3 separate regions of the Homo sapiens genome follow, and regions 1 and 2 are each linked to region 3. The links come from fine-mapping of genetic effects on gene expression. A gene starts in region 3. Each other region holds a variant in brackets. All regions are shown on one strand. Distances are between the middles of the regions.

What was found. PIP is the estimated chance that this variant, and not a neighbour inherited with it, causes the effect. A credible set is the group of variants that fine-mapping cannot tell apart.
Region 1: its variant is the best candidate, but not a certain one, in a credible set for the expression of LURAP1L in tibial artery (GTEx, PIP 0.83).
Region 2: its variant is the best candidate, but not a certain one, in a credible set for the expression of LURAP1L in sun-exposed skin (GTEx, PIP 0.59).

The regions. Positions count from the first base shown.
Region 1 is chr9:12,672,878-12,675,643 of GRCh38, forward strand. No RefSeq gene overlaps it. Among named protein-coding and RNA genes, the nearest start is that of TYRP1, 19 kb to the right of the region's middle. RefSeq lists enhancers at 2,315-2,459, 2,335-2,479 and cis regulatory regions at 2,387, 2,407. The variant C/T (reference allele first, on the strand shown) is at 1,247.
Region 2 is chr9:12,333,761-12,336,526 of GRCh38, forward strand. No RefSeq gene overlaps it. Among named protein-coding and RNA genes, the nearest start is that of TYRP1, 360 kb to the right of the region's middle. RefSeq lists an enhancer at 567-1,200. The variant T/C (reference allele first, on the strand shown) is at 1,324.
Region 3 is chr9:12,773,571-12,776,336 of GRCh38, forward strand. It overlaps LURAP1L (leucine rich adaptor protein 1 like), which reads left to right and starts at 1,450. Exons shown (of 2, transcript NM_203403.2): 1 at 1,450-2,457. The coding sequence starts at 2,146. All of the region lies in intron 2 of LURAP1L-AS1 (LURAP1L antisense RNA 1), which reads right to left.

The DNA of each region.
Region 1 (2,766 bases), 100 kb before region 3:
TGCCTGTCTGCTCTGTATGAAGGTGGACAGCATTACACACTGAAGGCTTTATTTTTTTAAAGGCTTTACCAATGTTGCAGTCAAAAAGTAACATCTAAAATTATCTTTATTGATTATGAGATTGCATAGATTTTCTTAAATTCATTGGTAAACTCTATTTATTCAACCTGTCTTTGCAAAAATTTTTCCTATTAGTCAATTGATAGTATCTCTCATGGATTTGTAAGTGCAATTTGTGTGCTTTTGTCTGTAATTTTTATAAATAATTTCCCTTTAATAAAAAGGCTTTGTATTGGAAAAGTGTTTGCCTATTTATGTCAAATATTCACCTCTTTTTTAATATTTACATTTTACATGAACTATTTTAATCTACTTTTCTTATCAATATAATAAACAAAATAAATATCTAACTTGATTTTCTTCTATATTGTTACCATCAACGCAGGAGCAGCATCAAAAACTTATCTCTAATGTTACTGTAGATATATATATATTTTTTCTATTTCCTGTCTCATTGCATTAGGTAGAACTTCTAAAACAATGTTCATAGTAGCGGTTATCCATGCTGGCCTCATCTTAATTTTAATAAAAATTACTGAAATGTTTCACTTTTAACTACAGTGGTAGCTGTTGACTTAAATATGCAGTTTTTACTGAAGTTAAAGAAAAATTCTGTTCTAAGCTCGAGTATATTTTTACCAAAAACAGGTATTAGATTTTCCTAAATGTCTTTTTAAGCATTTACTAAGAACTCCACAATACCTCTTACTTTTACTTATTGATAGAATATATTAATCATTTTCCTAAAATTAAATTCCCATTTGCATATACTAAATGAATTATTTATTAAAATTTATGTAGTTCAATATGCTGCTGGAATTTATTTGCTGCTATTTTATTTTGGATGTTTTTGTACCTATATTCCTACATGAGATGGTTCTGTAGTTTTGTTTTTAAGTGCTATCTGTATGTGCTTTTGGGATTAGGGTTTTCAGAGTTTTATGAAATACATTTGGAAGAATTTAGCATTTTCCTGTGATCTACTGCAATTTAAAATGCTAATGGTCTTCATTGATCCTAATTACTGTGTGAACTTAAGTGCATCTTGCCATTTATAGATGGAAAATGTCTGAAACTATTTGTTATAATAGTGAAATTCTATGTGGCCTAGTTCCATGGTAGATAGAAAAGAATTGGGAGTAGGATTAACCTAATTTTTCTTACACATTCCTAAGAATCTTAAAGG[C/T]TATCAGAGTACTGAGATTTGTCATCAAATTGAGACGCAAAACATTATTTTGTATGGCACAGAGCTCAGTCTCAGAAAACTACGCTTACTGCAGTCATATATTTACGTAAAATTTTTTATTTACATTGAATAGAAGGTTTATCTGTAATGTATACCCAAACAGACATCAAATAAGACATAATTAACACAGTGTAGATTTTACACCTGCCTTTCCCTGCCAACATAATATTTGTTTTTATTATTTTATGTTTTTTTGTCACTGTCCTCAACATTGTAACACTTCCAGTCTAGAGTTATATACAGTGAATTTATTTTTCAGTTTTAAAAATAATGGTTTTACCATATTCGTTTTAAACAACTAATATGGGTTGTATATCTTATAGTTGTTCCTCAGCATTAATTAATCTCCAGAAGTTAAGGCTGTGAATATATAATTAATGAACAATGTGAAGGTGAGATGTCATTTAAGCAGTTGGCAGATTGTCTTTAAAATTAATAATCTGTTTCTCCAACTGTTTGCACTTATTTCAAGGTGCTACTTTCTTCTTGATGCCTTTTTTTCACTTTTTTCCTGTTTTATTGATATGTAATCTTTTGCACATTTATGAGGTGTACATGAGTGTTTGGTACATGCATAGAATATACAATGATCAAGCCAGGGTATCTAGGGTATCGATCACCTTGAGTGTTTATCATTTTTAAATGTTGGCATCATTTCAAGTCATCTGTTGCAGTTACTTTAAAATACACATAATATTGCTGCTAAGTATAGTACCCTAGTCTGCTGTCAAACATTAAAACGTATTTCTTTTAATTAACTGTATGTTTGTATCCATAACTAATGATCATCCCTAGTCTCTCCCACCCACCCTTCCCAGTCTCTGGTATTTATCATTCTATTCTCTATGTCCATGAGATCAAGTCACATGTGGAGGATAAAAAACTTAGTGACTTTAAGTCTTAAGTAACTATTCATGGGATAGGCTCTGATTGCGTGCCTGGCTATGGCATAAAAAACTTAATTAGAAAAGAGGAGACATGGTGCTCTTAAATTTATGAGAATACATTTTCAAAGTTTAAACTGGTGACTTTCAAACTTCTGAGGAAAGGAAAATACTGCCTTCTTTGTATCGAAAGTCATGGGTTGCTCGTACATATGCGTACGTACATGACTGATGTCACTTGGCTCAATGAACAATGCTAAGTTATCAAGCATCCATGAGAACTGCATTTGTGGAATTCATTCAGTTATTTTCGTTCGTATATATTTCTTTGGCATTTTCTCCAATTCTTAAAAAGTAGAATAGTTTTAATTTTCTTACATTGGAACTTCTCTAACTTGGTCAACATGATTAATTCCTTTTATGTCTTTTGAACCTCAGTTTCTTTATACGTAAAGAGGTTCAGCTGGATTAGATGTTCTCTGAGATCTGACCCCTGTGCAACATACTACAATTTGTAGTTAGAAGATATTGGCACTGCAGATCTCATTAAGGACCTGAATAAGACTTCAAGTTTAT
Region 2 (2,766 bases), 440 kb before region 3:
ATTGCTAAACAAAGAAAACATTTTCAATGTATCTAGGTAAAAAATAAATTCCAGAAAAAACAAAACTGTCTTTATCCTTTTACTCAATATAAAAAGCCAAATAAAGCAAAACAATGCTTATAGAGGGCTGAAGGATAGGGCAGAGATTTCTGATCCCAAACTTAACTTATGGCTTAACATCTCTATTATGTGTAAGGGAAGCAAAAAATGTAATATGAGATATGCAAGAGTGCAGGGAGGAGCCAAGATGGCCGAATAGGAACAGCTCCGGTCTACAGCTCCCAGCGTGAGCGACACAGAAGACGGGTGATTTCTGCATTTCCATCTGAGGTACCGGGTTCATCTCACTAAGGAGTGCCAGACAGTGGGCGCAGGTCAGTGGGTGCGCGCACCGTGCGGGAGCCTAAGCAGGGTGACGCATTGCCTCACTCGGGAAGCGCAAGGGGTCAGGGAGTTCCCTTTCCTAGTCAAAGAAAGGCGTGACTGACGGCACCTGGAAAATCCGGTCACTCCCACCGGAACACTGCGCTTTTCCGACAGGCTTAAAAAACGGCGCACCACGAGATTCTATCCCGCACGTGGCTCGGAGGGTCCTATGCCCATGGAGTCTCGGAGTCTCGCTGACTGCTAGCACAGCAGTCTGAGATCAAACTGCAAGGCGGCAGCCAGGCTGGGGGAGGGGCGCCCGCCATTGCCCAGGCTTGCTTAGGTAAACAAAGCAGCCGGGAAGCTCCAACTGGGTGGAGCCCACCACAGCTCAAGGAGGCCTGCCTGCCTCTGTAGGCTCCACCTCTGGGGGCAGGGCACAGACAAACAAAAAGACAGCAGTAACCTCTGCAGAGTTAAATGTCCCTGTCTGACAGCTTTGAAGAGAGCAGTGGTTCTCCCAGCACACAGCTGGAGATCTGAGAACGGGCAGACTGCCTCCTCAAGTGGGTCCCTGGCCCCTGACCCCCGAGCAGCCTAACTGGGAGGCACCCCCCAGCAGGAGCACACCGACACCTCACACGGCAGGGTACTCCAACAGACCTGCAGCTGAGGGTCCTGTCTGTTAGAAGGAAAACTAACAAACAGAAAGGACATCCACACCAAACACCCATCTGTAAATCACCATCATCAAAGACCAAAAGTAGATAAAACCACAAAGATGGGGAAAAAACAGAACAGAAAAACTGGAAACTCTGAAAAGCAGAGCGCCTCTCCTCCTCCAAAGGAACGCTGTTCCTCACCAGCAACGGAACAAAGCTGGATGGAGAACAACTTTGACAAGCTGAGAGAAGAAGTCTTCAGACAATCAAATTACTCTGAGCTACGGGAGGACAT[T/C]CAAACCAAAGGCAAAGAAGTTGAAAACTTTGAAAAAAATTTAGAAGAATGTATAACTAGAATAACCAATATAGAGAAGTGCTTAAAGGAGCTGATGGAGCTGAAAACCAAGGCTCGAGAACTACGTGAAGAATGCAGAAGCCTCAGGAGCCGATGCAATCAACTGGAAGAAAGGGTATCAGCGATGGAAAATGAAATGAATGAAATGAAGCGAGAAGGGAAGTTTAGAGAAAAAAGAATAAAAAGTAATGAGCAAAGCCTCCAAGAAATATGGGACTATGTGAAAAGACCAAATCCACGTCTGATTGGTGTACCTAAAAGTGACGGGGAGAATGGAACCAAGTTGGAAAACACTCTGCAGGATATTATCCAGGAGAACTTCCCCAATCTAGCAAGGCAGGCCAACGTTCAGATTGAGGAAATACAGAGAACACCACAAAGATACTCCTCGAGAAGAGCAACTCCAAGACACATAATTGTCAGATTCACCAAAGTTGAAATGAAGGAAAAAATGTTAAGGGCAGCCAGAGAGAAAGGTCGGGTTACCCTCAAAGGGAAGACCATCAGACTAACAGTGGATCTCTTGGCAGAAACCCTACAAGCCAGAAGAGAGTGGGGGCCAATATTCAACATTCTTAAAGACAAGAATTTTCAACCCAGAATTTCATATCCAGCCAAACTAAGCTTCATAAGTGAAGGAGAAATAAAATCCTTTACAGACAAGCAAATGCTGAGAGATTTTGTCACCACCAGGCCTGCCCTAAAAGAGCTCCTGAAGAAGCGCTAAACATGGAAAGGAACAACGGGTACCAGCCGCTGCAAAATCATGCCAAAATGTAAAGACCATCGAGACTAGGAAGAAACTGCATCAACTAACGAGCAAAATAACCAGCTAACATCATAATGACAGGATCAAATTCACACATAACAATGTTAACTTTAAATGTAAATGGACTAAATGCTCCAATTAAAAGACACAGACTGGCAAATTGGATAAAGAGTCAAGACCCATCAGTGTGCTGTATTCAGGAAACCCATCTCATGTGCAGAGACACACATAGGCTCAAAATAAAAGGATGGAGGAAGATCTACCAAGCAAATGGAAAACAAAAAAAGGCAGGGGTTGCAATCCTAGTCTCTGATAAAACAGACTTTAAACCAATAAAGATCAAAAGAGACAAAGAAGGCCATTACATAATGGTAAAGGGATCAATTCAACAAGAAGAGCTAACTATCCTAAATATATATATGCACCCAATACAGGAGCACCCAGATTCAAAAAGCAAGTCCTGAGTGACCTACAAAGAGACTTAGACTCCCACACATTAATAATGGGAGACTTTAACACCCCACTGTCAACATTAGACAGATCAACAAGACAGAAAGTCAACAAGGATACCTAGGAATTGAACTCAGCTCTGCACCAAGCTGACCTAATAGACA
Region 3 (2,766 bases):
GGTGTCCCATTTTTCTATATTGACACACGATAATTTGACATTTGTTTTTTACTGACCAATTTCTAGCTAGATATTTCATCTATAAACTGCACTTAGCCAGCCTTATGCTGAACTTTGTAAGGGTTTTGTAATAATAAACTGTTCTTGACTGAAACACAAGCCTTTCATAATTACATGCCACAGTGCAATTCTTATGCAACGAGCTTGTGTTTTTCCAAATTTAGGACCAAGCATGTAGTTTTATCAGTTAGCTGGGATTTGGTCTTGTTTTCCCTTGATTCTGTAAGTGGTAGTTCTAACTTTGAAATGGGTCATCTAACTTATAACTATTTTCTTCATTTCTTTTTAAAAGGGAGAAATAGCATGCAAATTTCTGGCATGTTGATAGAAAGTTCAGCATTTTTTCCCTGACATGAAATATTTCATTTAGAATGCGTATGTTTCCTCTACGTATAAGGTTTCCTAGAGTCAGATATGATAAAAACAAACTCTGAGATGTATATACCTATGTTCCTACAAGTGTAAAACCTGAATGATGTCTCTGGAAATGGAGCCTCGGAGTGACCAGGAACACAAATACTTATATGTCACAGAAATAGAGGGGCACATACTTTGAAATATTTCAATGGAAATCAAAAATTGTAGTTTACTGGATTGAAATTAGTATCCTCTACTTAAACATTTTTGACACAAACTCAATGCTGATTCAGATCTGTAATCCATGTAGCTCATAATAACTTACTTGGTAGAAGTATTTCAGATTAATGAATTGTACAATTGTACAAATTAATAAATTGTACAATTGTTCAACTATACAATTAATTGTACAATTTGTATAGTTGAAAAAATCTATAAATTAATTTATAGATAAATTATCAAAGAAGACAACATTTTAAATAGTTATTCCCAATATTTTTTCTTCCATAATTAAAATAAAAGTAAGTATCTCAGCAATTGCTTGTTCTTAAAATTTCACTGCTATCTCAGCAGTCATGTAAGTTATTCTGGCTATTTAATTTTTCACTTTTGTTTGCATACTGTAACAGTTGGTAGGATAATTAATTTTGATTGTACATTTCCATTGAACTTTTGATGAAATTGTTTCACTCTTTTTATTAGAATAAAATTATTAGGAAAGTCTTCTAAAGAGAGGTTTTCTGTTTGTTTTTCCTTTGAGGAAGGTAGAGAGATGGGAAACGAAGACACCAAATATAAAGTCATTCCTCTATCTCTCATTTTAAAACCTGTTTTAAAGGTTGTAGCTAGTCAGGAAAACTGAAAAATCAACTGGTATTCCTAACTAAAGCAGGGCTTTGAAACTCTGCTACTAGCGACAGGGTTGGGAAAATTCCGGTTGCTCTTCTTGTCTGTGATATACGGTAGAAGGGTTGGTCCTGGTTTGGTCCACCTGCCAGCGGAGTTTAAAGTTTCCGAGGCTCAGAGGAACACAATGACTTGGATCAAACAGCCTAAATGGGAAGAAGGACATTTTTGCTGCATCAAGGAAGCCGTTAAACTCCTGCTAAGCTAACTAGCTCTTTTTTATGGGTCCATGCACACGACCGAACTCCTCTTTCACTGACCAGAGATTATTTCTGACAACCCAGGATATCCCGAAAGCTTGGAGGCATATGGCTGGAAAATGAAACGACCCAGGACATCGTTTCTGGCTGCATCATTATTTTGTGTCGCGTAGTACCAGATGGGCAGTCAGTGAGCGGCGCAGGGATGTGAACGGACGGTTTTATAATGTGAAAATTTTCCCTTGGTAAAGCTAAAACAGATTTAATTTCCCTCTCTTTTCTTTCACTACTTCCCCCTCTTTATTCCCCCTCTGTCTGCAATATCAGTGAACTCAACTTTGCAGTGAGGTGGCCAAAAAGAGAGAGAATGAGGAGATCTTGATCATCTTAGTGTCGGAGGAGTCGCAGCGGACTGGGAACTGCAGCTGCGACCCCCCGCGTCCTGTGCGGATTTCAGGGCTGATACCGCATAGGCGGTTATGGAAAGGACGGTACACCGGAGCGGCGGAGGATAGAGACCCTGGCCCCCGGAGAGGTCTGCTGATTTCGCAGCAGCCTTCGAAGCCGTGGCTGCCTTTCATCTGCTGCGTTTTATTACTATTATCGCCGTTCCGGAAAAGTCATGGAAGACAGCCCGCTGCCAGACCTCAGAGACATCGAGCTGAAGCTGGGGCGCAAAGTACCCGAGAGTCTAGTGCGCTCTCTCCGTGGGGAGGAGCCGGTTCCCAGGGAAAGGGACAGGGACCCCTGCGGGGGGAGCGGTGGTGGTGGCGGCGGCGGCGGCGGCTGCAGTAGCAGCAGCAGCTACTGCAGCTTCCCTCCCTCCTTGTCGTCCTCCTCTTCGTCCTCCCCAACCTCTGGCTCCCCACGAGGTAGCCACTCTAGCGCCCTGGAGAGGCTAGAAACCAAGCTTCACCTCCTCAGGCAAGAGATGGTGAGTGTGGTGCGCCAGCCGCGGGGGCTGGGACCTGGGCTGGGCCAAAAGATGGGGCGATCTGAGAATGGGGCTGGGAGAGAGGACGGCAGGGGCTGCAGAGCGGAGCGCTGGGCGCGTGGGAAATGCTGGGTGGAGGAATGAGCAGGGGGCGCTCATCCGGAGGCAGCTGCTGCGAGGCTTGTTTACCGCGGACTTTGCTCGGTCACGGTTTGCAAAGACAGCACAGTCGGCTGGCTCCACTCTGTGTACTTTCGGACAACGCGACTCACTGCGCCGGGCTCTATTTAGCTGCCAGCCCGTAGCCTC